7 linked regions of the Homo sapiens genome follow. The protein of the gene in region 1 interacts with the protein of each later gene in a pairwise test. Each region holds a gene or a part of one and is shown in the gene's direction. Other genes may lie near its edges. The genes, in order: FGFR3, RABL2B, DPPA2, KIFC3, SDCCAG8, PLEKHG7 and FCHSD2.

What was found.
Region 2: the proteins of FGFR3 (region 1) and RABL2B interact in binary tests that used the Homo sapiens proteins (3 or more experiments, as listed by UniProt).
Region 3: the proteins of FGFR3 (region 1) and DPPA2 interact in binary tests that used the Homo sapiens proteins (3 or more experiments, as listed by UniProt).
Region 4: the proteins of FGFR3 (region 1) and KIFC3 interact in binary tests that used the Homo sapiens proteins (3 or more experiments, as listed by UniProt).
Region 5: the proteins of FGFR3 (region 1) and SDCCAG8 interact in binary tests that used the Homo sapiens proteins (3 or more experiments, as listed by UniProt).
Region 6: the proteins of FGFR3 (region 1) and PLEKHG7 interact in binary tests that used the Homo sapiens proteins (3 or more experiments, as listed by UniProt).
Region 7: the proteins of FGFR3 (region 1) and FCHSD2 interact in binary tests that used the Homo sapiens proteins (3 or more experiments, as listed by UniProt).

The regions. Positions count from the first base shown.
Region 1 is NC_000004.12:1,795,469-1,799,792, forward strand, and holds part of FGFR3 (fibroblast growth factor receptor 3 isoform 1 precursor), read left to right. Parts: intron 1-3,785; coding exon 3,786-4,055; intron 4,056-4,278; coding exon 4,279-4,324.
Region 2 is NC_000022.11:50,773,219-50,777,542, reverse strand, and holds part of RABL2B (rab-like protein 2B), read left to right. Parts: intron 1-793; coding exon 794-873; intron 874-1,691; coding exon 1,692-1,771; intron 1,772-4,324. UniProt on the Homo sapiens protein: Small GTPase required for ciliation. Activated in a guanine nucleotide exchange factor (GEF)-independent manner via its intrinsic GDP for GTP nucleotide exchange ability.
Region 3 is NC_000003.12:109,313,206-109,318,248, reverse strand, and holds the start of DPPA2 (developmental pluripotency-associated protein 2), read left to right. Parts: upstream 1-1,731; 5' UTR 1,732-1,965; intron 1,966-2,512; exon of another isoform or gene 2,513-2,626; intron 2,627-3,268; exon of another isoform or gene 3,269-3,495; coding exon of another isoform or gene 3,496-3,509; intron 3,510-3,693; coding exon of another isoform or gene 3,694-3,706; coding exon 3,707-3,739; intron 3,740-5,043. UniProt on the Homo sapiens protein: Binds to target gene promoters, including NKX2-5 and SYCE1, but not GATA4, and may be involved in the maintenance of the active epigenetic status of these genes.
Region 4 is NC_000016.10:57,792,492-57,795,991, reverse strand, and holds part of KIFC3 (kinesin-like protein KIFC3), read left to right. Parts: intron 1-850; coding exon 851-993; intron 994-3,500. UniProt on the Homo sapiens protein: Minus-end microtubule-dependent motor protein. Involved in apically targeted transport. Required for zonula adherens maintenance.
Region 5 is NC_000001.11:243,269,201-243,273,524, forward strand, and holds part of SDCCAG8 (serologically defined colon cancer antigen 8), read left to right. Parts: intron 1-891; exon of another isoform or gene 892-904; coding exon 905-1,057; intron 1,058-1,777; coding exon 1,778-1,863; intron 1,864-4,324. UniProt on the Homo sapiens protein: Plays a role in the establishment of cell polarity and epithelial lumen formation. Also plays an essential role in ciliogenesis and subsequent Hedgehog signaling pathway that requires the presence of intact primary cilia for pathway activation.
Region 6 is NC_000012.12:92,705,594-92,709,917, forward strand, and holds part of PLEKHG7 (pleckstrin homology domain-containing family G member 7), read left to right. Parts: intron 1-877; coding exon of another isoform or gene 878-1,038; coding exon 1,039-1,545; coding exon of another isoform or gene 1,546-1,560; exon of another isoform or gene 1,561-2,056; coding exon 2,057-2,079; coding exon of another isoform or gene 2,080-2,122; exon of another isoform or gene 2,123-2,956; intron 2,957-4,324.
Region 7 is NC_000011.10:72,838,319-72,841,818, reverse strand, and holds part of FCHSD2 (F-BAR and double SH3 domains protein 2), read left to right. Parts: intron 1-235; coding exon 236-365; intron 366-859; coding exon 860-942; intron 943-2,944; coding exon 2,945-3,028; 3' UTR 3,029-3,500. UniProt on the Homo sapiens protein: Adapter protein that plays a role in endocytosis via clathrin-coated pits. Contributes to the internalization of cell surface receptors, such as integrin ITGB1 and transferrin receptor.

The DNA.
Region 1 (4,324 bases):
AAACAGGTAGTGAGTTGATCGGTCAATAAACTTAATCCGGTTCCTTAACAAGATGGGCCGGGCAGTAAAAATACAAAGACCTCGTGAAATGGACTGAGGTCTAGGCTGGCGCTTGCCCGGGAACATAAATTATGGAGCCTTGGCTCGCAGGGGTCAAGGGCGGTGGGAAAGGTTTTGGCCACTGGACTGCCCTGGCCACCCCAGGCCCTGCCAGGACAGCCCCCATCTCCCCAGGGGGCCGTATTCCTGGTTGGGACCTGGAGTGACCCCCCAGGGTGCAGGGAGGTACACAAGGTCGGCTCTCCCACAGTCCCACCCCACCCAGCAGGGGTCTGGGGGTGCAGGGCCTTTCCCGAAGGTGCTGGCTGCAACCTCCCCCACTCCTCCTCTGCAGGGCTGGACTTTGAGCCGCGTGGGCCTCTGGGTGGTTCATTAACCTGGGCTGAGCCTGGCCTCCAGGTCCTTGTGTGAGCCTAGGAACCCCTTGTTACCCACCCCCCAGCTCCCCAGCCCTCAGGTCTCACTTGGGGCTAGATCTGGGGCTGTGGCACCCCTTGTTACAGCTGAGCTTGAGTGGGAGCCCAGGGGCTTGGGGTCTCCTGGAGGACGGGGATCTAAAGTCACCTCATCTAGGGAGGCATGCAGCCCTCACCTGAGTGATTCAGGAGTGAATGAGCCAGGAGTGGAGCCACCTTTGGTGGGGTAGGGGTCAGCCTGGACCTCTAGGCTGCCAGCTCAGGCTCGGGTGCCCTCTTCGAACCTCAGTTTCCTTACCTGTCCAAGAGAACCGATAATGGCAGGCTGTTTGAAGGATTAGGCCAGATAACCCTGGCAAGCCCTCTTTAGCCTGCCCAGCCTCCAGATCCCTTTTTTCCGGACTTTATTGTGAAACTCCAGGTGGGGAGACAGGGAGGCTGGACTTTTGGGGGCCCCCTCCTCTTAGGCTATTTTATAGCTCCTACCTGGCAATACCTCCTGTACCCCAGAGAGCTGCAGAGAACTTCATGTGCATCCGAAACCAGAATGTGTTGTTTCCTGACCCCAGGCCCTCATCTCACCCCAAAACCCAAATAAACCCCTGGGGCAGCCAGCTCCGGAAGCGAGTCTGGATTTGATCCTTGTTCTCTGGGGTCAACCCGAGGGGCTTATGATGGAGCAAGGCTCCCCCATCCTCTCAGCCATGCTCCCTCACATGCACTGGGCCTCCACTGCAGAGACCCAGAGCCTGGAGAAAGGTTCCCCAGGCCAGAGTTTGGCCGTCCCCAGCACCCTGCCTAATGGACATCAGTCTTGGGGCCAGAGACCCAGGGCAGGGAGCGCCTCTCACCCCTACCCTCACTCCTGCAGCCATTTCAGGGCCTGGTGCCCTCCCTGAGCTCCTGGGCCTGTGGGGTGGGATTTTTACTTTGTGCCACAGTGGGGGAAACTGAGGTACAGGACCAGTGAGTGGCAGAGTTGTGGAGACTCTGGGACACAGCAGAGGGCTGTCGTTGGCATGTGGAGCCCAAGTTGAGGTCGGCACTGTGTGGGGTTGGGGCGCCGGCAGGAGCACGTGTTGTGGGATCCATAGAAGGGTGGGAGGTGGGACGCGTTGCCTCCTACCCCGCCTTGGGTACAGCAGGAGTTTTGTCTCCAACGTGTTTGGGCACCAGTGTCTGTGTGGTGTCAGTGGGGCCTCCCTTTTGTGGATCAAGAAAGAAAGAACCCTTCCTAGGGCTGCTGGGGGGCTATAGCTCTCCCCATGCCTGGCAGCTGGGTGGGGTATGGGGGCTCCACCCAACTGCTGACTTCCCAGTGGGAGTCAGACCCTGAACTTATAGCACCCACTCATGCCCCGTGTCACACTGTCCTTCACCTGGTGCTCGCCACCCAGCCCCTGCTGGGGTACCCTGGCCTCTGCTGGCACCTAGCAGGCAGGCAGTGGGGGGGGCAGTCAGGGCTGCACCCTCCCCACCACACACGGGCAGATGGCCACTGGTGTGGCTGGCCTGGGGCTGCTGTGTCCCCCGTCCCCCCGTGCTGGACCAGGCTGAAGCAAATACTTGTGTGGATGGCTTGACCTGTTGTCGCCACTCAGACCAAACCGGAACCAACCGGCTGTTGCCCTTGGGCCAGGGCCTGCAGCTGAGGCTGCCATAACCAGCCTGTTCTCGGCCTTCTGGGGGGCCTCGAGCAGCTCCCAGCTCTGGGTGGTCCCCACAAGACACTGGCCAGGACCGGAGGGCTGGAGGTCAGGCCAGGAGCCCCCCTGACTGCGGGGTCCCTACAGGGGCAGTCCTTGAGCTGTGGGTCCCGGTGGGGCGAGGGCTCCTTCGGATGCTTCAGGGGATGAGTGTGGGCCCTTCTGGCTGGCAGGGTCACCCTGGGCACTAGGCGTGTGTGGCTGGATCAGGTGGGTTGGGCAGAAGAGGGCCTGGCCGGGCAGCCAGGGACTGGTGTGGCCAGAGTGGGCAGCTGGGCCCCCGAATCTAGGCCACGCGTCTGCAGAATGACAAGTGATGGCGCAACCCGCCCAGCTGGGTCTGAAGAAGGAGGCTGCCTGGGGGACCACCCACCCCCGTCCCGGCCCCAAGCCCGGGACGCCTGCCTGCATGCATTGTCTGGCCCTGGCAGGGAAGCCTAGGGGCGATTGTCCCCCCAGCCCTGCCCATGGTGTGTCCTTGGGTCACAGGCTTTGGTGGCTCTGGGGAGCTGGGCAGCTACTGGGGAGGGACCCAGGGGCCACCTGCACATCTGCCCCTGTGGGTGGGCCCCCACCCCAGCTTCTCAGCCCCCAGGGAGGGGCCAGGGCTGCTGACCTGCCCTGGCTCTCACAGCTTCCTGCCCCCAGCCTGGTCGTCCTCTGTGAGGGGGCCCCAGTCCCCCTGCAGGCAGCAGGACTCCACCCCCCGGCCCCCTTGAGGGCCCGCCTGGGCCTCCCCACTCCCCGGCCTGTGAGACCCACTTGGCCGGACCCAGCGCCGTGTTTGTACTTTGCTCTTCTCGGTATGTTTTCCGTCATGACCGCCGTGTGGAGCTTCCATAGGAGCTGCAGGATACAGAACCTTGCCCACCCCAAGGAGCCCCCACCCCCGCCCCGGCCCCCTCGCGCTGCTCCGGCCTGTGCTCTGACCGGTGAACCCGCGCATCGCCCCCCAGACCGTCCACACGGCCACGTGACCCTGCACCTCCTTCCTTCTCGCCTGTTCTGTTCCCTGGCTGTCCATCTGAACTGCTTTTCAGGCTCATATGGGGTGCGGGGGCTACTGAGGACGGACCCCTCCTGGGGTGAATCTGCACCACGAGGGGGCTGGCTGGCCAACCCTGGCACCCCCTCTGAGCTCCATTTCAGTCAGAGGCCAGCAAAGGGCAGCCTGTCCCCTTTGCCCGCAGCACCTGCCCGTCGTGGTGCCGCCTGTGAGACAAGCATGGATTTTATGTTTCCAAGCAATTGAACAAATTAAAAGAACGAAGAGTCACATTTTGTGACACTTTGAGATTTGAATTCTCCGTGTCCATGAGTGAAGCATCATGGGGCCACTGCTGTGGGGTTGGCTGCAGGTTGTGTGGGGAAGGCGGCTGTCACACCGAGGCAGACCGGAGTCCTTGGGACAGACTGGTTGGCAAAGCTGAAGATAGAGACCTTTGGCCCTTTTGGGACACAGTTTCCAGCCCCTGGTCTGGTGGGACCCTGGATCTGGGTCAGAGCCTTCCTCACTCAGGGCCGCCGAGGCTTCCACTGCTGTGTCTGTAAACGGTGCCGGGTTTGGGGGTGCCTGCCTCATGGTTGCCCATCTTCCCCACAGAAGTCCCGGGCCCAGAGCCCGGCCAGCAGGAGCAGTTGGTCTTCGGCAGCGGGGATGCTGTGGAGCTGAGCTGTCCCCCGCCCGGGGGTGGTCCCATGGGGCCCACTGTCTGGGTCAAGGATGGCACAGGGCTGGTGCCCTCGGAGCGTGTCCTGGTGGGGCCCCAGCGGCTGCAGGTGCTGAATGCCTCCCACGAGGACTCCGGGGCCTACAGCTGCCGGCAGCGGCTCACGCAGCGCGTACTGTGCCACTTCAGTGTGCGGGTGACAGGTGAGCTCTGGGGCCACGCCAGCTACAGAAAGGAGCCGAGTGCCGGGCTCCCTGAGTCCCTGCGTGGGTCAGGAGCGGCTGGGGGTCTCTCTGGTCATTGGTGGAGAGGAGGGCACCCCCAGGAAGTGCTGCCCAAATGGGGGACCCTGCCCCATCTGGGAGGGGCACCTGGGGGCCTCCTGGGGCAGGTTGGGCATTGGTTGCGGCCATCTCTGCCTTGCAGACGCTCCATCCTCGGGAGATGACGAAGACGGGGAGGACGAGGCTGA
Region 2 (4,324 bases), on another chromosome or scaffold:
TGCCAGCCCCACCTTTCTCCCATGAATTGTTATATTACATAGGTTTGGAGTGAGTTCCTCCCCGCAACTGGGAGATTTTTAAACAGCTTCCCAAGTGGATCCACTGAGAACCACAGGTGAGAGGAGCCCCTGGAGCCTGCTGCTGCCTGTCCTAGGCTCGGCACCCCAAGGCTCAGTTGCCTTAAGATCTGAGTATGTGTTACTCCACCTTGTACCAAGTGCTCCTGCACACCCAGCCCACCTGCGTCATTTGGCTCTGCTTTTTACACTGTCCGGCTTCTTGCAGCCTCGGAAGCTGTTAATCCCCAGAGTTTAACCCTTTTTCTCAGGGTTTCACACATAGACAGACTCCAAATTGATTGACAGCTTGTCAGCTGTATGGCTTGTGGGAGCTTTTGTCCCTGGAATGGTCATGTTGCTACCTAGGGTTAGGGTTTCCTTTCTAGCCTGCGAAAGCTCCATCCATGATTGAGTTGGGGTATCCACATTTGCATTTTCCAACTGCATGATGCCTTTTATGACACTTGTCTGTAAAATCCTGTTCTGTGTTTTACCTCAGACTTCGATGGCCAGGACACACTCCCATCTCCTCCCACCCCTCACCCTTCCATGGAGTTTGTACCAGTGATATGTGAAGCTGATCCTCTGTCTGCAACATTCATTTGATTTAAAATCTCAATAACTCCAAAGAGAAGAGGAGGGAGAGGATCCATTTCATCAAACCAAACACCCCTGCTCCCCACTCCTTCCTTACCTCCCCTTTTATTGATTTTGCTCCTTAACCTGAGTGCAGTCAGCCACAGCAGCTGTCCACGTACGCCCTGACCCTGTACAAGCACACAGCCACGGTAGATGGAAGGACCATCCTTGTGGGTAAGTGGCACAGGGCCAAGACATGCTGACCCTCAGGAAAGAGGAAATGGGAGACGAGGGGAGGTGAGGGAAGGTTCATAAGGAGAGAGTCCAGAGGGAGAAAATGAGACCCCAGGCAGGGACAAGGGGTGCTAGAGAGAACCCAGAGAGCCAGGAGCCAGGAGGGTGGAAGGGGGCATGCAGGGGCCAAGTCCCAGCCCTCTGACCTGGCGTCCAGGCCAGCACCTGTGCAGGACAGGGTTCAGGAAAGGAGAAGTCAGGGGGCTGTACCCACCTCAGGGAAGAAGAACGTAAGAGGCCTTCGACGAGGCAGTAGTTTTCCTAGCTTCAGGGGTTGTTACTCAGCCAGTTTGAAAAAATAAATGTGGTCAGAACATTATCTCCCACATCGGGCTGCGACCTTCCATCGGGTCATAATCTTCTCCTTGGCCGGGCACACAGCCTGCCTGACTCTGTCTACCGTCTGTGGTCAGCGCACGTGAGAAGTTGGAATAGTTTGGAACTTAGAGGACCCTGCGTGTCACGTGGGAAACGGGGAACTGTCTTCTCCCTCCTTGGGCTTCCAGTGTGTTGTCCTTCCTCCTGGCCCCTGACCCACTGTCTTCCCATACACACAGGTGAAGACACACCTCTCACATCACACTCAGGTACACTGTGTCTTGAAGACACACGTGTGGGGCTGTATAGTCTCTGTTTCTCCCTGTGCTCCCCATGTACACTCACACATGTGCTGTGGTTTGTGCCGCATGTGTGTTGTATCTTAGTGACTTGCACAGAAGTGCACCAGGCATGTAGGTCTGTCTGTGTTCACATTGCAGACTTTTGGGACACGGCAGGCCAGGAGCGGTTCCAGAGCATGCATGCCTCCTACTACCACAAGGCCCACGCCTGCATCATGGTACGAGACGGTGGGGAGGTGGACAAAGGCACTGGGCAAGTCTGGCCTGAGGGGTGAGGGGCCTAGCAGCCCTGGGCCCTTGTAACCAAGTCTGGGTGTTGTGGGAGGGGGGCTTAGGGTCACCCGGGGATGTTTCAAACCACACCTGCTCCCCAGAGCTTCTTAGTGAGAAGGTGCCAGGTGAGCTCTCTGTAGGCGGGGATGGGTGGAGAAAAGGTGGAACAGCAAGCTCAGGGCTTCAACATCAGGTGTAGCATCCAAGAGGCAAACATGCCTGAAACAGGGCCACCGTCCCTCTGATGGACCTAACCTGTCAGACAAGCTCCCAAGGCCTCCCTCCACTGTTGCCTGCTGCCTTTCCCTAGGGGGCGCACGCTGGGACTGAGTAGATGCTGCGGGTCCCAGAGAACCTTCTCTCTCAGGCCAGCCCCTCGCCTCCCCCCGAGCCTCCCATTGTGTTGCCCAGGACGCAGTCCTCACGGCTCCCCCTGGTGACCCGGGTGTGGTGAAGCAGTCGCTCCAAGAGAAAAATGCAGCCGAGGAAAGGGCTGAGAAAGGAAAAAGGAGCTCTGTATACCTGTGTCCTGTAGAAGTTCCTACCCGTGAATTCCCTGGCTGGGTTCTCAGGCCACCACTTTTAAATGCTGAAAAGGAGCATGTTTTTCTTTTGGGTCACTTAAAAAACATTTTCATGGCTGGGCACGGTGGCTCATGCCTGTAATCCCAGCACTTTGGGAGGCCAAGATGGGTGGATCACCTGAGGTCAGCAGTTTGAGACCAGCCTGGCCAACATGGTGAAATCCCGTCTCTACTAAAAATACAAAAAATTAGCCGGGCATGGTGGCGGGTGCCTGTAATCCCAGCTACTTGGGAGGTTGAGGCAGGAGAATCATTTGAACCCAGGAGGCAGAGGTTGCAGTGAGCCGAGATCACACCATTGCACTCCAGCCTGGGCAACAAGAGCAAAACTCCATCTAAAAAAAACCCACATTTTCATGAATATCAGCCATCAACAATGCAGAAAGTAATAGACTAGTCTTCTGAATTATTAACCCTAGCAATTGTCACCAAGTGAAAACCTTGGTCACTAAAACTTCTTGGAATAGCATTCAAGGTCTTGCTTTAACACAAAACCCCAAAACTTGGCGGTACAAAACAACCATTTTCTGATGGATCGGGAATCCATGTCTGAAGTCTCAGCTAAGAAGACTCCAAGGCTGGGTTCCAGGCTGGAACTGCCTGGGGCATCTCCCCACACACACACACTGGTACTTGGCTGGACCACCAGCAGGTTCTACTCCCCGTGTTTCTTCGCAGTTTGTCATTTGGGCTGATTTGGGTTTGCTCACAGAGTATCAGCCAAGATCCCAAGATCAAGTATCCAAAGAGAACCCGGTGGGACTTATATTTCCTTTTATGGCCTAGCCCTGGAATATGTGGCATCTCTCTGTCCATAGTCACAGAGGGAAGAAACAGATGGCATCTCTCAGTGGGGAACCAGAATCATATGGTTAAAAGAACACATGGGATGGACAGGTTGCCACCATTGTTGGCATACATTAATAAAGTCTGCCACGGGCCGGGCGCGGTGGCTCACGCCTGTAATCCCAGCACTTTGGGAGGCCGAGGCGGGCGGATCACGAGGTTAGGAGATCGAGACCATCCTGGCTAACACGGTGAAACCCCGTCTCTACTAAAAATACAAAAAAATTAGCCGGGCGTGGTAGCGGGCGCCTGTAGTCCTAGCTACTGGGGAGGCTGAGGCAGGAGAATGGCGTGAACCCGGGAGGCAGAGCTTGCAGTGAGCCGAGATCACGCCACTGCACTCCAGCCTCGGCGACAGAGCGAGACTCCGTCTCAAAAAAAAAATAAAGTCTGCCATGGCACCCCATAGCATTTAGACACCCACCTTTCTAGCCCTACCTCCCACTTAGTGATTGTCTGTAAATACGCACGGCCTTACCTTGGCACTGAGAGAGATGCATGGCTGAGCAGGTGTCATCTCATCTGTAAGAAGCAATAGCAGAGGGGATGCAGAAGGAGCTGCTCTGTTCTGCTCATTGTCACCTGCTCCTCTGCACACCTTCCTTCATGCTCTTCCCTCAGCCTCTCCCCAGCTCACACCCCTTTATTTGAAACTCTGCTCATTTTTCAGGCCCTGCTTCAATGCCACCACCTCCGTGCAGCCTCCTCTGATGTTTGTCATTAGCTTAGCTCTTTCGTGTGTGCTCCTGCACCACTGATCCCTTCCACAACATGGACTGTCTGTGATGCACGTGTGCAGGATGCTGGGAGTGCCCAGGTGGAAAGACACACGTGCTGCCCCCAGGAACTGACTGACTGGTAGGCACAGTACAGATACCAGTGGTGAGGACAGTGAGGATTCTTCCCTTCTGACCCTTTGCAGATGGTAAAGGAAGGAACTCATCACCTAATTCCCCCGACTGCCCCTTGAGAACAAAATCCCTTGAAAAATTCCAAAAGCTTTAACTCTGATAACTGTTAAGGCACTAAACAAGAGGATGATGGGGCAAGGAAAATGGGGGCAGTGTA
Region 3 (5,043 bases), on another chromosome or scaffold:
TGTTGTTTTTTTTTGAGATCCACCACCTGGGTTCAAGCAATTCTCCTGCCTCAGCCCCCACCAGTAGCTGGAACTACAGGTGCGTGCCACCATGCCTGGCTAATTTTTGTATTTTTAGTACAGACAGGGTTTCTCCATGTTGGCCGGCTGGTCTCAAACTCCTGACATCAGGTAATCCACCTGCCTTGGCCTCCCAAAGTGCTGGGATTACAGGCGTGAGCCACGGTGCCCAGCCAGATAATTGGAGTTTTGAATACTGCTGGATATTTGAACATAACATATATTTGAATACTTTGATAATATTAAATAATGATTTTTTAAATTATGTTTAGATGTAAAAAGGATATCGTAGTTATAATAGGAACGAAGTATTTTTTCCCCCTGGATTTATTTATTTATTTATTGAGACAGCCTCACTGCAGCCTCGGGCTCCTGGGCTGAAGGGATCCTCTGACCTCAGCCCCCTGAGTAGCTAGGACCACAGGCATGTCTCACCACACCCACACGCCCGGTTATTTTATTTTTATTTTCATTTTTATTTTTTTGGTAACAATGAGATCTCACTATCTTGCCGAGGCTGGTCTCATACTCTTGGGCTCAACTGTTCCTGCCACCTCGGCCTCCTGACGTGCTGAGATTACAGGTGTGAGCCATGGCACCGGCCTTTTCCCTGAATTTATGAACGAAATCATAGGCGATCTGGCACTTGTTTCAAAATAACCCATGGAGGAGGAATGGACGGCAATTTAGATGTAACCAGACTGGCTGTAAGTAAATTACTATGACAAAAAGTAGACACACTTTTGTACATGTTTGAACCTTCCCATAATAAAACATTCTCAAAAAGCTGGGGAAAAAACCCCAGGAAAACAAATAAGATTTTTTTTTTTTTTTTTTTGGGGGGACAGAGTCTCTCTCTGTCGCCCAGGCTGGAGTGCAGTGGCGTGATCTTGGCTCACTGCAATCTCCACCTCCTGGGTTCAAGCGATTCTCGTGCCTCAGACTCCCGAGTAGCTAGGGAGTCTGTTCCCTGTTTGTATTGACTACTTCCACGACTGGTAAGCTCTTCCTCAAAAAGTGTAATCTTCTCTAAAGTTTCCCTAAGCTATTCCAATATAGATTCTTCCCATAGATTTTCATAGATTTTCTTACTTTTTTTTTTTTTTTGAGACGGAGTTTCGCTCTTGTTGCCCAGGCTGGAGTGCAATGGCGCAATCTCGGCTCACCGCAACCTCCGCCTCCCGGGTTCAAGCGATTGTTCTGCCTCAGTCTCCCTAGTAGCTCGGATTACAGGCATGTGCCACCATGCCCGGCGAATTTTTGTATTTTTAGTAGAGACGGGGTTTCGCCATGTTAGCCAGACTGGTCTTGAACTCCTGACCTCAGGTGATCCGCCCGCCTCCGCCTCCCAAAGTGCTGGGATTACAGACGTGAGCCACCGCGCCCGGCCTAAAATGATTATATTGTAAAAAATGCAATGAAGAAAAGAAAACATGGTAATGAAATGGTCTTCCCACTCGAAATCCTGTCCCTACCTAAGGCATTAGGATCAACTCAGGCCATTAGGTCAGCTTTCCTCTAAATTGCCCATTCAAAGCACCAGGGGCCACACCCAACCGGGTAGGCGGAGTGCTTTCCTGGCTGCATCTTAGAGGGCTGCATTCAGGTTCCACCCTGGAAGGGAGGAGCCGGAATTCCGATCATTATCTGCCGCGGACTGCCTGTCTCCAAAGCCCTTTGTTTATGGCCTGATCTAGCTAAGGCTTCTAGACTTCAGGAGCTTAAGAATCGTCCGGAGGGCTGGGCGTGGCGGTGCAGGCCTGTAGTCCCACCCACTCCGAAGGCTGCGGAGGGAGGATCAACTTGAGTCTGGGAACTCAGCCAGGAATTCAAGACCAGCCTGGGCAACACAGTGAGGCCCCCTACCCACATCCTCTCCGTCCCCGCAATCTCCTTCCATCCCAGGTCTCCTCTCTACAAAAAATTTAAATATTAGCGGGGCGTGGTGGCGCGGGCCTGTAATCCCAACTACTGGAGTGTGGGGGGAGGGGCGGGGGTGGGACGGCATGGGCTGTAGTGGGAAGATCGCTTGAGTCCAGGAGGTCGAGGCTGCAGTGAGCTATGATCGCGCCACCGCACTCCAGCCTGGGCGTCAGAGCCTGTCTAAAAAAAGAAAAAAAGAAAAAATTACCTGGAGGGCTTGTGGAAGCACAGATTCCTCAGCCCCTCAGCCTCACCCTCCATGATCTGATTCAGGATGTCTTGGGTGGTGGGGTGGGGCCTCATAATTTATTTTTCCAATCAGTTCCTCAGTAAACTGAAGCTGAGCTTTTTCAGACTACATTTTTTTCTTTTGTAAATTTATTTATTTATTTATTTATTCATAGAGATGAGGTCTCACTATATTGCCCAGGCTGGTCTCGAACTTCTGGACTCAAGTGGTCGTCCTTCCTCGGCCTCCCAAAGGCCTCCCAAAGGATTACAGACATGAGCCACCGTGCCAGGTCCAGACAATATTTTGAATGTGTTAAATACACTAGTAACTTAAATGGACCATGGTCACCCTGGGTCCTGAGATTAATGGACCAAATCATTTTCCCAGGGACAGAAAAAGCCCATTGTAAAGGTACTTGGTTGTCCAGTGCTGCCATATTATTGGTGAATGAAATTTCCTTTAGTTGCTCTGGCTTCTTAGAGTGACCTATGAGAACACCTGCTTCATATTTTGCCACATTCCGTGTCCAACATTAGGCTCCAGCAATTCCTAAGTGCATCGTTCCTTCTGCCTTCGTTACTCCACCACTTGCCTTGGTGTTTTGGCTCTTGTTGCTATTCTGAACAGCCAAATCCTTCTCCTCCAACCAGCTCAATATTATTGCAGGCTTAATATTTGTATTTAGAACTAGATCGAAGAGAGATTATGTTATCCAACCCCCACAATTTAAATCTGGAATCTTTCAGTGAGTAACATACCCCCGTGCATAAATCAGGTATAAAATACCTGCGTAAAATGCTCTGAATCTTTTTTCCATTCCCTTCGTAATAAGTAATTTGTTACCAATATCGTCTTATAACTGTTCTAAAACATTCTGTTCATTCCATTGGAACTTGTCAACAAGTGTTTGTCATTTTCAGTTTTCTTTCAAGTTTCACCTATTTTTTTTTCTTCTTTCTTTCCTTCTTTCACTTGTTGAGACAGAGTCTCGCGAAGCTGGAGTGCAGTGGTGCGATCTCGGATCGCTGTAACCTGCGCCTCCTGGGCTCAAGCAGTCCTCCCACCAACCCCTCCCGAGTAGGTGGGATTACAGGCGCTCGCCACAACGCCCGCCTAATTTTTGTGTTTTTTTGTAGAAATGGGGGTCTCGCCATGTTTCCCAGGCTGATCTCGAACTCCTGGACTCAATCGATCCGCCCCCCCTGGGCCTCCCAAAGTGCTGGGATTACAGGCATGAGCCATCGCACCCAGCCTAATTTTTAAAAAAACATTGTCACTGAATGGACAAGACAGGGTATAAAATTGATAAAATTATCCCATTACCAGAAAATGAGGGAGGGCAAAAAGAGGAGGAAAGGAAAACAAGAGCTCATCTGGGTAACAGGAAGTAGAAGGAAACATTTGCTTATAAAAGGAGAAAGCAGGTTAAGAGAAGTAAACTACCATATCCTTAACATTGCTGTCCTTGCCTTCCCCAGGGTGTTGCTGAAAATGTCAGATGCAAATTTGGATAGCAGCAAGAAGGTAAGTTTCATTCTAATAGAATTACTTTTCTCACAGTCGCTTTTCAGAGTCTTTCTAGGTCTCCCTTATGTTTCTCTTTTACCACAAATCTTCATTCCTGGATGTAAGAAATCTCCATCTTGAAACCTCCTCTTCTTTGCAAATAGATTGTTAGTTTTCTTTCATGTGATTGTGCTTTTATGTGCATTTGGATGAGAGTAAAAAGAAGTAAAATTTTCTCCTCTTAGTCCAAAGGAAAATATTTCTTTGGTAGGAAAGATGAGAAGTGCTATAGCTGGACAAGATAAAAATGGTAAAAATAAATAAATAAAAATGGCATGGAGAATAATAATATTAGAGAAAAGATAATTAAAAATTAAAAATAAGTTTTTTTTTAAAAGCAAAGGTGAAAAGAAAGTGAAGGCGGTAATGTGGATAAAGTCATAAAGTAAAGTGACCAATTGGTTACTTTCTTTCAGAGTAGGAAATATCTACTCCCAGTGGCCTTGGTACCAAATGAGTTTCAAGATTAGGCTTGGGTAGTCCTGGCTCTATGAGAAACTAGAGGAGGTGTCATAGTGTATTTACAGGCATCACTGTACCCGTCCTCTGGCTAAAGGACTGAATTGGCCAATATTAGCTATATGATTATGGGGAAGTCACATAGCTGCTTTGAGCCCCTACTTTTCTCTGTAATAGAGTAGTATTCCCTAAATAATGTCAGTGTTATTTTGAAGTAAACTAAGAGTAATGGGAAACTACTGAAGAGGTTAAATAGGAGACAGGAGTGTGGCATCAGCACTAGAAGAGAATATTGCAATAGGACTGGAATGGAGTTTATTCACCCTTGGATTTGAGAAGAAAAGCTAACTTCAGAACCATACTCAAGCCTGTGTTACTCTATGGCATTGCTCATTTAGTTTCCTCATTTGTAAAGCAGGAAAATTAATAAATTACTACAAGTATACTATGAGAATTAAATTTGAGAAATAAAGAACACCTAGCATAGTGCCTGTGTACTGTAGAGAACCAGTAAATGTTAGTTTCTTTCTATCTACCTGCTTTTCTACTTTATCTTTTATTCATCAGATCATAAAAACAACATTGAATGCCTACTCTGTGTAGACTGCTGTGTTTCTGTGAAAGCAACAGAGAGTAAAACAGATACACTCTCCTCAGGTCTTGGAGCTGAAATGAGCCCAGTGTGGCTGGAGCTCAGAAAGCTCAGAGGTCATGAGCTGGAGAGGCAGGCAGGGACCAGACTGTTGGAGAATTTGTAAGCTACACAGCTCTGTGAGCTAATTTGAGTTTTGTCATTAACCAGA
Region 4 (3,500 bases), on another chromosome or scaffold:
AACCCGGGAGGTGGAGGTTGCAGTGAGCCAAGATCGCACCACTGCACTCCAGCCTGGGCAACAGAGAGAGGCCCTGTCTCAAAAAAAAAAAAAAAAAAAAAAAAAAACAAAAAAGCCCAAAAAAACAGAATGTGTGTAAGGCCTGAAAAGCACTTGGCCCAGTGGCTGGCACTCGGGATATTGTTACGCCCCAGGGTAGTGGCTCTGCAGTGTGCCTCATGACTCGTGAGGCTGGCCCCCATCCCACCCTGTTCAGCCCTGCAGGTGGAGGTGGGTGGCTGGGGCATTGCTGCCACAGCCCGCCCTCTCTCCCATGGGTGAGGGAGGCGGTGTGTCAGAGGCACAAGGGGATGCACGTTAGCTGGTTCTGAATACGCTTGGGGAGGCAACGGAGGCTGGGCCACCTGGTTTGGATTTTGTCTTAATGAAGTCAGGGAAGAAATTGCCACCTAGAGGCAGCCGGGGTAATAAAGCCATAGCCCCTGTGCAAGTCCTCAAAGCTTCATGCAGGCTGGCTGGCAATGGCTTCCTTCCACTTCCCTGCTGAGCAGATGCCTGCCCCAAAAGCCACTGTGGGGATAGGGGAGCCTCCGGTGGGGTATTGGGCCCCTTCCAGAAGAGAATCTTTGGGCGGCTTTTGGTAAGGAAGGAGCGTAGCCACTGCCCCGAGCCAGGCCTTCCCCTCTGCAGGGCAGGCGTTTTTTGGGTGTGTGAGCCCCTCCTGGCCACATCTGGACCAGCCAGGGATGTGTGAAAGCTGAGCTCAGCTGCGGCCCTGGCCAGTGGTCCATGGCTAGCAGTCTTTGGCCAGTGGTCGGAGTGTCTCACCTATCTCTCTGTCCTGGGACAGGGCGTGGAAAAGATACCCCAGTCTGCGGTGACGAGGACTCCAGTGCCCGAAGTGCAGCTCGCCCAGCCCTAGCTCAGTGCCGAGCCCTTAGCGTGGACTGGGCTGGCCCCGGAAGCCCCCACGGGCTCTACCTGACCCTGCAGGTAAGCACTGGGGCCTTCCAGGCTGCATGTGCCTTGGCTCTCTGAGCTCCAGTGGCTGGGTTCCTGCCAGGCTTCTGGGGGTAGGAAGCACCTGGGGAGAGCCGGGGACCCACCTCGCACCTCTCTGTTGGGCCCCTCATGACCCCTCTGCCTGGGAGCCTGCTTTATTAAGTCAGACGGGAAATCTCATAGGAGCTGACAGGAGCTTTTCAGCCATGCCCTGGCTGAGGTGTTAAAATGGGAAGCATGGGGCCTTAGCTGAGATGGGCAGAGCTTGGAGAAGGTATTGGGAAAACAGGCAGGTTTGGGGTGGTTGATTATTCTGAAACATGGTTATGTGAGTATTTCCTTGTATTTCCTTGGGAATATTTCCTTGTTTGAAGTGAGAATTCAAAGCTAGATGGAGGATTCACTAAAACTTGGGGTCTTCTCCCTTGCAGTTATCACCAAGTGACTTTAAAATGACAAAGTAAGGCTAGGCGCGGTGGCTCAGGCCTGTAATCTCACCACTTTGGGAGGCTGAGATAGGAGGATCGCTTGAGCCCAGGAGTTCACGACCAGCCTGGACAATATAGTGAGACCCTATCTCTACAAAAAGAAAAATAAAAAATTAGCTGGGCATGGTGGTTCCTATAGTCCCAGCTACTCAGGAGGCTGGGGTGGGAGGATCGCTTGAGCCCAGGAGGTTGAGGCTGCAGTGATTGCACCACTGCACTCCAGCCTGCGTGACAGAGTGAGACCCTGTCTCAAAAAAAAAAAAAGAAAAGAAAAAAGATAAACTTTACATATGTATGTATATTTGGCTATAGAAATAATACATAACGATAATAGTAATAAGAGCTACTGTTTATCAAACATGGACTCTGTGCCAGGCATTAAAAGATCTCATGTTAGTCCTCATCATACTCATAACAATCTCAGGATACAGTATTTGATCTGAGCTTTATAGATGAGGATGTGGAGGCTCAGAGAGGTTAAGTTACTCGCTGCTGGTCACATATTCGACCATTCAACACAACTAGCCTTGTAACAGGGCAGAGATACAGTTATCCAGAAACTGCCTCTCTTAGTCCTCTATCTTTGAGAAATCCACTATTAAGTATTTGGTGTTTATTTGTTTATCTTTCCTATATAGAACCACTTAATTAAATTTATATGATTTTTATTTTTGAGATGGAGTCTCGTTCACTCTGTTGCCCAGGCTGGAGTGCAGTGGCGTGATCTTGGCTGTAATATCCGCCTCCCGGGTTCAAGTGATTCTCCTACCTCAGCCTCCTGAGTAGCTGGGATTACAGGTGTGCATCATCACACCTGGCTAATTTTTATATTTTTAGTAGAGATAAGGTTTCACCATTTCACCATGTTGGCCAGGCTGGTCTTGAACTCTTTTTTTGTTTTTTTTTTTTGAGACAGAGTCTCGCTCTGTCGCCCAGGCTGGAGTGCAATGGCATGATCTCAGCTCACTGCAGCCTCCGCCTCCCGGATTCCAGTGATTCTCCTGTCTCAGCCTCCCAAGTAGCTGGGATTACAGGCGTGTGCCACCGTGCCCAGCTAATGTTTGTATTTTTAGTAGAGACAGGGTTTCATCATGTTGGCCAGGCTGGTCTTGAACTCCTAACCTCGAGTGATCTGCCCGCCCCAGCCTCCCAAAGTGCTGGGATTACAGGTGTGAGCCAGTGCACCCAGCCATATTTATATGATTTTTTTTTTTTTGAGACAGAGTCTCACTCTGTTGCCCAGGTTGGAGTGCAGTGGCATGATTGCAGCCCACTGCAACCTTCACCTCCCAGGTTCAAGCGATTCTCATGCCTCAGCCTCCCGAATAGCTGGACTACAGGCATGTGCCACCACACCTGGCTAATTTTTGTATTTTTAGTAGAGATGGGGTTTCACCATGTTGGCCAGGCTGGTCTTGAACTCCTTACCTCAAGTGATCTACCCGCCTCAACCTCCCAAAGTGCTGGGATTACAGGCATGAGCCACAGTTCCCAGTGCATATTTATATGATTTTTATTATTTATTTTACATGTTATTCTGTCACTAGCTCTTTCCCTCAAGTAAGTCCTGGTAATCTCTTCATGCTCATCAACACATAGAGAACTACCCTTTTTTTTTTTTTTTTTTTTTTTTTTTGAGCAAGGTCTGGCTCTGTTGCCCAGGCTGGAATGCAGTGGTAGAATCTCACTGCAACCTCCAGCCAAGTCATCTCACCTCAGCCTCCTGAGTAGCTGGGACTACTGGCATGTGCCACCACACCTGGCTAATTTTTGTAATTTTTGTAGAGACGGAGGTTTCATCATGTTGCCCAGGCTGGTCCCGAACTTGTGGGCTCTGCCTTGGCTTCCCAAAGTGCTGGGATTACAGATGTGAGCCATTACGCCCGGCCCTACCTCTTTCTTTTACACGGCTGCGTAATAGTCTACTTCAGGGCTTACCATAAATTATTTATAACAGATCCTCTGTATTGTTTCTGATTGCAGTGAGCTCCTTAAACAAATATCTGTGCT
Region 5 (4,324 bases), on another chromosome or scaffold:
GTATAACTTTTATTGCATTCTATTGGTTAATGCAGATTACAGGCCCAGTCAGTTTCAGATTAGAAGAGAACAAGGGAATGAGGCTGGGTTCCTTGGAGGCTATTTTTTTTTTTTTTTTTTTCTGAAACAGTCTCGCTCTCTTGCCAGGCTGGAGTGCAGTGGTGCGATCTCGGCTCGCTGCAACCCCTTGGAGGCTATTTTTAGAGATGAACTATCACAGTAATATACCTTAAAATACTTCATTTTAGACAGTTTTTGTGTGTTCTAGGGGTGGTCAGTTGCACTAACCAAGAATCTATGAGGTGTGGTTGGCCAGCAGTATATAGAAAGAGCTGTACCGCCGGGGCTGCCACTATAAGCACTTCAGCTATGCAAATTTTGATCAAAACTAGGCCAGACATGTGGATGTCTCTTGGTGGGGGAGGGATTTCCTGTCCCCAGGGACAATGAGGCTTCCCTAGGTTGGAACTGGGTGTGACGCAGTCCCTTTTGCTGGCTCTTCCCACCTCCCCACTGCTCCTTTCGTCCCCCTCTGTCTCCAAGTTGGTAAAGGAGTCAGGCATGGTGGGAAGGAGAGCACTTCCCTTAGCAAGTTATTGTTTAATGGGAGCTGGTGGGAAGAGTTCTGTCATTTAATCCTTGCCGGTGGTGCTATATGTAGTGAAATCAACTGCTACAGTGGTAGGGGCCTTAGAGATCATCAAGTCCTACCTCTAAACCATGAAGTTAATCTTCTCTCACCATCTTTGGCACATCCCTCAGCAAGCTAGAAACAGAACTCTGCGTTTTTTCCATAAAGTACGAGAAATAATGATTTCACCTTTAAAAACTGCCTTCCTGAGTAAGTGTCCGTTTGGTCAACCAGACTCCATGGGTCCTAACTTTCGTCAGGTTGTTCTTGCAGAACATGCCAGCAGAAGCATTCACCAACTGACATGTGCCCTGAAAGAAGGCGATGTCACTATTGGAGAAGATGCACCAAATCTTTCTTTTAGCACCAGTGTGGGAAATGAGGACGCCAGGACAGCCTGGCCCGAATTACAACAGAGCCATGCTGGTGAGTGTGAATGTCAATCCTAGTCTGAATGATGCATAGTGAATTTTTTAAACTCCGTAGAATAATAACTCCATTCATTCTTCATTCTGCTGCTATGATGTTATTCCTCAAACACAAATCAGATAATTTAATTCCCTCGCTTAATCTTGTTTTCCTTTGACTTCCCAATGCTTATAGGCTAAAGTCCAAAATTCTTAGTTATAAAATAACAGTGTTTTCCTAAGATAGCTCTAACCTGCCTCTTCGGCTCATCTTTGTGTACTTCTCATGCTAATCATCCATCTCACAACTCATATTCTAGTTATAATAACCTCCTCTCTATGCTTTTATGCTTTGACATGTGCAGTGACTTCTAACTGGAATTTTTCTTATCCTTTTCTGCTTGGTGAACTCCTTCCTGTTTATCCTTGCAGTGTTATCTCCTCTGTGAAAACAAGCACAATTAGCTTCTTCCTCTTCTTGTAGCACTGTGCATAGCTTTAGGTCTACATACAAACTTATTTTATATCTATTAGTGTCTCTCTCTTCCTTGCTAGATTCTTAGCTCTTAAGGGGTAGAAATTCTTTTTTTTTTTTTATGTTGGTCTTGTATCCCCAGTTGATAGCAGAATTCTTGATGCATAATATATCAGCAATTTTTATTAGTTGGAAGGATGGATGGGTGGTAAGAAACCATGGATCTCAAATAAGGTTAATAAACCCTCTGCTTTTGCTCTATAGTTAATCAGCTCAAAGATTTGTTGCGCCAACAAGCAGATAAGGAAAGTGAAGTATCTCCGTCAAGAAGAAGAAAAATGTCCCCCTTGGTAAGTATCAACTTTTCCAAGTTGACAAAGCATTCCTGTGTTTTACTGTATTGTGTTATTTTGTAGTACATGTTGCAGAAAAAATTTAAGCATGGCATACTAATAGTGAAAAACATTAAAAGTAATTCTCTTCCCTCTGATTATTTTGGCTGAAAAAATAGATTTCCATGGCAGAGGGAATCTTGATTTTTTAAATTTATTATTCACTTGGAAAATGGGAGCAAGGGAATAGTTTGGAGAATTTATTTTGCAACTGTTAGCAAAATATGTAATATAAATATATAATATATAATAAATTAATATAATAAATTATATGTCAGAATATATGTAAAAGATAAAGTCATTATTTTAGTAATTTCTTTTTTAGAGGGTCATATCTATTATTGATCATTTTTAGAAGTTACTTAATTATAATTGTAGCCCTACTTTGTAATATTTTTTAAATTTTGAGTGTCAAAATAATACATTTTATTTTTAATTAATTAATTAATTTTTTTGAGACAGAGTCTCATTCTGTTGCTCAGGCTAGAGTGCAGTGGCATGATCTCGCCTCACTACAACCTCTGCCTCCCTGGTTCAAGCGATTCTCCTGCCTCAGCCTCCCTAGTATTTGGGTTTACAGATGTGCACTACCACACCAGGCTAATTTTTTGTATTTTTAGTAGAGATGGGGTTTCACCATATTGGCTAGGCTGGTCTCGAACTCTGAACCTCAGGAAATCCATCAGCCTCGGCCTCCCAAAGCACCGGGATTATAGGTGTGAGCCACCGCGCCTGGCCTCAAAATAATACGTTTTAATATGTAATGTTCTATATGTTAAAATATATGGTTATAAAATAGTATGATATATAAGAAGTGGTGCTGTATTTCTTCTGAAGTTGTTTGTTATTGCTTTGACAGAGTGTATTATTTCTGATTAAAGCATTTTATATGCTAAAGGCTGAGATAGATGTGAGTGAAAGCACTCTGGACCAGATTTAAGTGGACAAAATAATAGTCAAGGGCTTAGTTCTATCTAGGGTCTATCACATACTCTCTAAGATATTGTGCCTGTCTCACAGAGTTTTTGGAATAATGAGATAAGATTACATACTTAAAATTCTTTAGAAACCTATGAAGTGTTACATAAACATAACATGCATAGCAGCAAGTAACCACCTCACATTTTCAATGTGTTTTCTAGTTCAATACAATGCCTGTATGCTGAAAAGTGTGGAGACATGTCACTTTCTTTTCTTCACCACTGAAATATCAGAGTATCACTCCCATACGAACACTCCATTCCAGGCTGACACATACTTTTAAGCTTAATTCCTACTTTAGAGAAATGTACTTCATATGCATATTCTAAATTTATAGATACAGATTTTATAATTTTAGTAAAACATCTCATCATTTAATGAATTTATTACTATTGACATCTGGTTTCTAGCTTGCTCTTAAGCACAGACTGGTGGAATGCTTTTAAATCTACTAGATGAAGTTGCTTTATCTGTTGAATGCTCAGACATGCTTATTTGCCTTTTAAAGTCTGAGCAGTGATATTATGGAGCTTACTGAATCCAGACAGGCAGGAAGACCTTCACTAAGAGAATCAGTTTAGTACATACAGAGTGCACTTTAAAATACACAAGTCTATTTATATGGAGCTATGTAAAAGAATGGAACTTAGACTCTATATGTATACAGCCTACATGTAATAATTATAAACCATAATAGTAATAATTAGCTTTTTAAGATTATACCTTTAGAATGCACTTTCATAGCCAGTATAACATATTAGAAATACATGCATATATTGAGAGTAAAACTGAGGCACTGTTGAGATGGAAAAAAAGTTATTACTTATTGTCTTAAAATGTAGATATCTAAACTAAAGCCCTTCAAAGTAGACACAAATGATTTCATGTGAACATTTTTCATACAATATTGGCTTGAGCTTTTTATTTTTCACATTGACTTCCTCCTGTATACTCATAGTAGTAATTTATATTTGCCTATCTTCTGAACCTATTGCTATTAATGGAGGATGATTATAATTGTTTGATTTCTACTCAGGACAGATAATTCATTTAATTAGAGTTACTTTGGTTTTTAAATTTCTTAAATATACCAAAAAACCAAAGCTCTATTTTATTTTATTCTGCCATGATAGCTGGTACTTGATTATCATTTAAAATGTCTGCTGTGCTGAGAAAGAGAGTGGCTGAGAAACAGACACTGTGCCTCATTTCAAGCTTTCCTCTGGCTTTGTTTAACTGGTTGACCCTTGTTTTACCTTTTCCTGATTTCCTCATCCTTTAAAAAAAAAATTATGTGATGGGTATATGATTTTACAAACTATTTTAGGATAAGGTAAGCTATACATTAACAGTCAGTTCCAGGAATGCTACAGAGCTAAAATAGCATTAGCGTTTTTTTGAAATCTCTTCGTTGGACCCCTCAATGCAGTGTGTCTCT
Region 6 (4,324 bases), on another chromosome or scaffold:
CTGAAGCCACCTCCCATGCCATCTGCGGCCAGGGAAGATGGGTCTCTCGCCTGTCCCACAGTCCCACACCTGGTCTGCAAATCATCAAGCATCAACTCTCATGCCATAAGGGATGTGTAAGGATTGATGTTTTCCCACACATACCTTCTTCATGTGGGAAAGTACAGAATAACGAAACTGCAATAAGCCACTCCCATGAATCAAGCTGTGAAATGGAAGGGTCAGCTTTTCTTGAGCATGAGAAGAGATAATTCTGCATGCATAGATTGCAAAAAACACCTCCAATCATGAACAGTAGGGTACCTGGTGATGTCTGGGTTTTTCTTTTCAAACCTGCAAGTCCTTTTTCCAAAATGTAAAGATTGATAGAATCTAAGATAAAAGACGTTGTCAGATACTTTACATCAGTTACCTTCAAAGCCTGTCTCATTCTGTAATTTAAACCTTGAGGGAAGGAGGCTTGTTTTCCTTGTTCTTGCATCCCCAGAATGCACCACAATATGTACATACATACATAAATGTAGATGATAAGGAGGATTTAATGTATATTTGATTCTCTTAAAATGGAATAATCACAAGGGGAGGAGCTATGTGGTTTCCAGGAAGTACCTTAAGTTACCAAAGTTTTTAAAGGCTTTTTTGTTTGAACCTAGAAGGAATATTAAGTAGACAGTAAACAGACTTCAATACGCTATTTAGATGAGAAGGCTGGAGTCACGTATATTAATTATCTTCTGAACGTAAAGGATGCTGATGTGAACTGAGCTCTATTGCCTATGAAGAATTAGAAGTTTTCCTTTGAAATTTTAGACCTTTTTTCTCACTGCAGTCTCCCTCATTTGCTACATATTTCACAGTCTGCTCTTCCTCACTACAGATGCAATAACCTGCTTGACATTCTCCTCTGGAAAAGGAAAAGAACTACGAGAGGAAGCATGGCACTTGGATGCAGAAATTGAGCACCCTCCATGTGATCCAGAGAACAGCAACTCATACGTCTTCTGGAACCTTCTACCAACAGTAGAACCTCTTAGCTTTATGGAGAAAACAGAGTCATTCTGTCCAGAGGTGCCACCCCAAGACTGTGGAGCCTCTCCTCGGCCCTCGCTGAGGAGCCTGCCAAAGAACCAGGGGAGTCTCCTCCAGTTTGACCGGCAAGCCCCAGGCCGCATCTCCACCTCGCCCACTTTGAGGAGATTAAGGACCCGTGGCTGTGGGACAAGGCAGGATGCCTGGCAGGTGACCACCTGGGGAAGCTGGGGAGCTCCTGTGGGCTTCCCATGTTACCTTTCGAAGAGCCTGCCAGGAAGCCCAAAGGATTCTTCACACTTGCTGTCACCCTTGAGACTCCACTCAAGATTGACCTCTGAACCTGAAAGGGCCCTGAATGCAGCTGACTCACTGGAGCCCCAAACCCGGCCCACTGACAAGTATCTCCCTCCTGAGCTTCAGCCTGTCAATGAAGGGTCCCTTCACCAGGCCTCTCTTCGGCAGCAAGAAGGCCACTTCCTGCCCAGCCCCACCCTACGACACCCTAGTCCTCAGGTAACACAGCTCTAAGCCTCCGGCCTCTCAGTTGCTGAACCACAAAGCAAAATAGATCTCAGAGTTGCTTAGTTCCCCCAAGGGCCAGTAGATCCTAAAAAGGAGACAGCACAGGAAGTCACACTGAGGGGACACATTCTCTTTAGGAAGCATTGGCTCTTAAGTGAAAGGAGGGCAGCAATCTGGGGAGGAAAGAAAATGATCTCGCTCACTTTCTTCTGTCCTTAGAGGCACTTTGAGAAAGGATGCACCAAGGCCAGGCTTACCGATGGTCTGTCAGGTACCCGAGAGCAATGGGGGCCCTCTTGCAAATGCACACTATTTAAAGACAACGTCGTGTCACTGATTTAAAAGGGGAGAAAGAGCCAGTTATTCAAATTTCCAATCCCACCAAAATGTAAAACATGTTTTAACTAGGAGGGCTCATTGTTTCTCCTTTCAACATGTTTGCTTTGGAGTTTGGGATGGGTTTGAGCAAGACTAAAACATATGTTCTTAAAATTTATTTCAGGGAGAAGAATTGCACCCATCCAGGTGTGTATGCATTTATTTTCTCCGGTGCTATGACATCTGTTGACTATTTACTATTAGATTTTTATTTCTGTCCTGACATAACAAAGCTGACGGTGTGTTAACCAGTGCACTTTGTTTTATAGCACTCAAGTCACTCTTCGCATTTATAGGTGCACGAGTTTTCATTTCAAGAGTCTCCCTTTAAGAGCACAGCATTTGGGGGCAGGATACAATGCCATATGCAGTCATAGTTTTCATTTTGAATTGTCAATGTCTTGGCCCTGTGGCTTAATTAACATCCACTTAGTAATAGGTTTTGTCTGGTAGAGAAAATAGAAAGGCCAGAGATATGCAACAGCTTTTCAAAGAAAAATTTGGAGGATAAAAGAAAGGAACAAGATGTCCTGGTTAAATCTAGGGTGACCTTTAAAATAACCTGTTATGACAGACTGTGCCCTTATCCAGAATGAAGTAGACTGTGTCATTTCCAAAACCAGCTCTGAACTTTCAGCACGGCCCCCTGGTTGTAGCAATGGATCTGCCATCTCTGACAGGGATGAAGAGTTTCTGCAGCAGCAAGGGAAAGATCCATGCCCAATTTTATCTTCCTGACTTGTGGGATTGGCAGGAAAGCCCTCATTTCATTTGAAAAGTCACAGAGGATTTTTTTGGAGAAATAGCTGCTGTTTTATTACTGGACCTCAATCCTCAAGCAATAGTTTGATATTCATAGCAGTAAGGATAACATCCATGTACACATTCTTTGTTGATTTTAATCCTTGTTGGCCTAATTGTACCAACAAAGGTAGAAGATACTTACCAAGCCATAGGGAAATGCAAATTGTTATGTCTGTGTATCAGCTAGCTGTTGCTAGATAAAAAACCACTTAAAGTAACAGACAGTTATTGTTTCTTATAAATCTCTGTGTTCCCTGGGGGTGACTTGGTCTAGGCTGGGTTTAGCTGAGCAGTTCCACTCCAAATGTTCCTTATCCTGCTCATGGGATCAAAGGGCTCCCATGGGTCCATGGGATCAATTAAGCAGATTCTTTATACAGTGAAGGGAGAGGTTCAAGAGGACAAGTAGAAACATGCAAGGCCTCTTGGAGCCTGGGCTCTGAATCTGGTCTAATTTTATTGACCAAAGCAAGTCACTCAGTTGAACTCAGCGTCAGGGAATTACATGTTACCAACAGTGGGAGAGCATTGAAATGTTACATGGCAAAGTGTATGGATGTAAGGAATGGGGAAGAGTGGGGCTGTTAATGTAAATCTTCCATACATGTGAAACAGAATAAAGCTCTCAGATGAGATCTAGTTCAGTTGTGTCAAAGAAAGTGGAAAAGGGTAGTCTTAGAAAAAAAAATTATGTTTAGAGTCGAATTATTTTAATAAGATTTTGAGAAATTTTATTCCTTACCCTAAGAGCAGTGTGAAACCATTTGATGAATTGATATGATCAGATGGATGTCAGATATACCTGGGATTTAGATGCAAGTAGACTTGAGTCAAATAATTCGAATGTTCAGGTATGAGAAGTTGTTAAGTTAGATTATGATGAAGGCAGTGGGGTTAAAAAGAAGTATCTCAATGCAAGAGATATTTAGGAGATACAATCCCCCAGACTTTGTGAATGGTAGCCTATCAGGGTGAGGGAAAGGAATCTTCAAGAATGACCTCCAAGCTTCTGGCTTGTTCAACTGGGTAACCAAGGTGTCCATTCACTGACCTAGATAAACTTGGGTAAAGAAATTAAATATGAGTGGTTAGAGTGTAGGTCTTGTGTTCAGGTTTGGACATGTTGAGTTTGAGGAACTATGAAACATCTAAGTGGAGATTTTGAGTAAATAATTGGTTAGAGAAGGCACCAGGGGTGGATGTACTATATGTATATTTGTGAGTCTTAAATCAAGGAATGTTTCCTAGAGCAGGTAAAGTCTGGGTCCAGCTCTGATTATTAGATGGAGCCGGCAGACATAAAGGCAGATCAATGGGATGCATGAAGCCATTTGCAAAAAAATGATGTGAAGGTAATTTCCATTGCCATATGAAATCTGTGAGGAAATAACAAAAATAGTCTTGGTAAATTTTAAAAGAACAGCTAGGTCAGGCTGGGCACAATGGCTCATGCCTATAATCCCAGCACTGTGGAAGGGCCAGGCAGGCGGATCACTTGAGGTCAGGAGTTTGAGATCAGCCTGGCCAACATAGTGAAACCTCATCTCTACTAAAAATATTTTTTCTTTAAATAAGCTGGGTGTGGTGG
Region 7 (3,500 bases), on another chromosome or scaffold:
AAGATAAACTAAAATCAGTAATGTGATGAGATCTGTAAGAGGAAAAAGTGAAGTGCAATGCAAAATTGGAGCTTGAGGTGGTTATTTAATGCTCAGTTGCCTCTAATGAGGTTGACAAGTTTCAACAATCAGCTTAGCTTTAGAGAAAAGGCATGAGTACAGAGCAGTCAGAGAAGCAGCCAGGCTCTCCTTCCTGGAGGGGAGCACCGGGTAACCTCGCTTCCCTTTGCTGCAGATCTCTCCTTCCCCCAAGCCACACGCCTCCCTGCCTCCACTGCCGTTGTACGACCAGCCTCCCAGCAGCCCCTACCCCAGCCCAGATAAGAGGAGCTCCCTGTACTTTCCCCGGTCTCCTTCAGCAAACGGTAAGGGTTCTCCTGGGCATGGGTCTAAATGCATTTTCACTTCAGAAACCTACATATTCGCCTGAAGGGCAAAAAAAAACTGCATTTGCTTTTTTTTTTTTTTTTTTTTTTTTGGAGACAGAGTCTCTGTCACCTGGGCTGGACACCCAGGCTGGAGTTCAGTGGCATGATCACGGCTCATAGCAACCAATTCCTGGGCTCAAGTGATCCTCCTGCCTCAGCCTCCCTAGTAGCTAGGAATACAGGCATGCACCACCACACACAGCTAATTTTTGTATTTTTTCTGGACAAAGGGTATTATTCTGTCACCCAGGCTGGAGTGCAGTGGTGGGATCATAGCTCACTGCAGCCTTGAACTTCTGGCCTCAAGTAATCCTCCCGCCTCAGTATCCCAAAGTGCTGGGATTACAGGCTCAAGCCACCATGCCAGCCTTGCATCAGCATTATTGCTCAACAACTCAAGTAAAATGAGCTTCTTTGGTTTTCTCCCTTAGAAAAAAGCCTTCATGCTGAGTCACCAGGATTCTCACAGGCATCAAGGCATACTCCTGAGACCTCATATGGCAAACTGCGACCTGTAAGTCTCTGATCTTGCAGGATTATCGAATGCATAGTTCTTCCAAATTGAAAGTAAGGAATTAATGTTTCCCCGTGGCCCCTGTGTTGTTACTGACTATGCCAAACAAGGATGAACTGGGTTTGGGAAGGTAAAAAGAGCTATTGAAAAGGAAGGCCATAGAAATCAACTCATCTCGGGACATTTAATCTACACTGGAACTTTTTTCACTGAGCCACAGTGAGATTGCAAGATGATGGCTATGAAAGTGATTTAGAATAGAACAAACTTTATGAGCATTAAAGCGGGCTAATTGTGAAACACTTTTTTCAGTAAGCATTTAATTTTCCAGGCCTCTATTTGCCTCTTTGAGGAATACCAAGATGAAATAATAAGCTAACTTCATGGCCTTAAAGAGCGTTTATTCTCCGGGTGAATATATTATTGCAAAGTTACCTCTCCTCACCCTTCACTCTACTGCCATCTGCATTCCACCCACCACTGTACTCCAAGGTCATAACTTGCACGGTAATCCAGTCGGATACTTTGCAATTTTATTTTCCTTGACCCCTATTAGCTTTTGATACCATTCCTTTACCACTGGCTTCTTTTGGCTTCATTCATTCAGCAAATATGTATTGAGTGCCTTCTTAAGGACTTGAGTCTTTATCCCAAATGAGACAGGAAGCCATTGTAAAGTGGTAAGCTGGACAGTGTTGTGGCTGGTGCATTTTTAAAGCATCGCTATGGCAGCTAAGAGGCGGATGGATGGAGGGTGGCAGAAAGGATATAGGGAGCGATTAGGAGGCTGGAGCAGCATCCAAGAAAGAAGTGGTGGCAAGATGGACTGGTGGGTAAGAGTGGGAAGAGAGAGCAGTGGGCTGATGTGCTTCTCTACATTTGCCTCGTTTGCTTTCTTCCTCTCTGGTCCTACCTTTCTGTGGACCTTTGCAGCCTTGCCGCCACCTGTCTCTGCTGATAATTCTCATGGTTCTGTCACTGGGCTGCTTCTCTTGAAGTTGTTGAACGCACTCTTGCCGAATGACCTCATCTACTTCCACAGCTATGATAACCATTTATATGCCAGCAAGTCTCAGATTTATAACTGCCAATCCGATCTCTTCTCTTGAGCTTCAGATGTGTGGATATCTCAGTTTATATATCCCAGATCCCCAAAACTCAGCAAAAATGAGTTATGTTCCCTTCCAGACATGTTCCTTCTCCCATATTGCCTATCTTGGTAAATGGAACCCCCATCCTACTGGTGTTCTGGCATCATTCTTAATACCTCCTGCCCCTGCCTCCCACAGTCATTCCCAAATCCTGCCAGGTATACCTTGCAGAGAGCTCGCAAATCTTTCCACTTCTCTACTTCCCCTACTGCCAGTACCCTCGTTTGGGCTATTGTCAACTCTCATTCAGAGGATTACAAAAGTCTCCTAAGTTGCCTTCTTACTTGGACTCTTGCTTGCCTCTGATCCTTTCTCCAGTTGTTACCTGAGTCATCTTTTCGCAGATCTGATATTGCTTAAAATCCACCAAAAACTCCTCTTTTGCCTACAGAATAAAGCACAGATTTATTTTTTTCTTCTTAAAGCAGATGTTTAAACATGGTTTAACAAGGCCCTTCACAACTTAACCCTAGCCTACCTTTCTAGCCTTCTCTTTTGTAACTCTCTACCCAAGACACACTGAAATGTTTCATTTCTCTAAGCATTGCTCTCCCTTGCTTCCAGCCAGACCTTTGCTTTGGAGGATGTGCTAGGATCTTAGTCATAGGACTTGTGCCCATGAGGTTTTTAGCCTAGGCAAGAAGCTGATTTGTGGGCTTGATATTTCATTGAGAACAACTGCTTCTCAGTGTAGGAAATAGTGAAGACTAGGTTGAAAGCACGTGCTCACAACATTTCTGAGACCCCTAGGGTGCCCATGTCCTTGGACAGATGAGTGATTAGGTTTTGGGGATGCTTCAGATACTGAGTCAGGAACTGACTGACAAACTACGTAATTGTTTCCTGCTCAGGTCCGGGCAGCTCCCCCTCCACCTACACAGAATCACCGAAGGCCAGCAGAGAAGATTGAAGATGTGGAAATCACACTGGTGTGATGATGGGCTTGCCCATCCATTACTGCTACAATCAAGGCCAGGCTTGGAGTTTGGCCAGTCTTGTTTTTTAGGCACCTTTGCATGATGATGACTCTTGAACAGAGCAAAAAACAAGGAGGATTATGTGTGACTGGGTGGCCTGGTAGACTCCTCCCACGTTTTGAATATTTCGTGCCTTTTTTTTTTGTTGTCATTTTCTATGTCATTTCTCCTACCATAGCACAAATCCTAGCGGACCCTAGGAGCAAAGAGGGGGGCAGCCCTCATGCCTAACAGTGGTCTGTTTTTATATGAGACTCAAGAACAGGCCTCATTCCAGGGCACAGTCCCTAAATTACTGATCATGTGCACTCGTACAGTATATTACTGTGACCACAAGGATGTGGCAAAGATTCTCATCTTTCTTCAAGTGGCTTTTGCTCATCTGATTGAGAATTAATCAGATCATGTTGGCTACATAAGGAAACAGAAG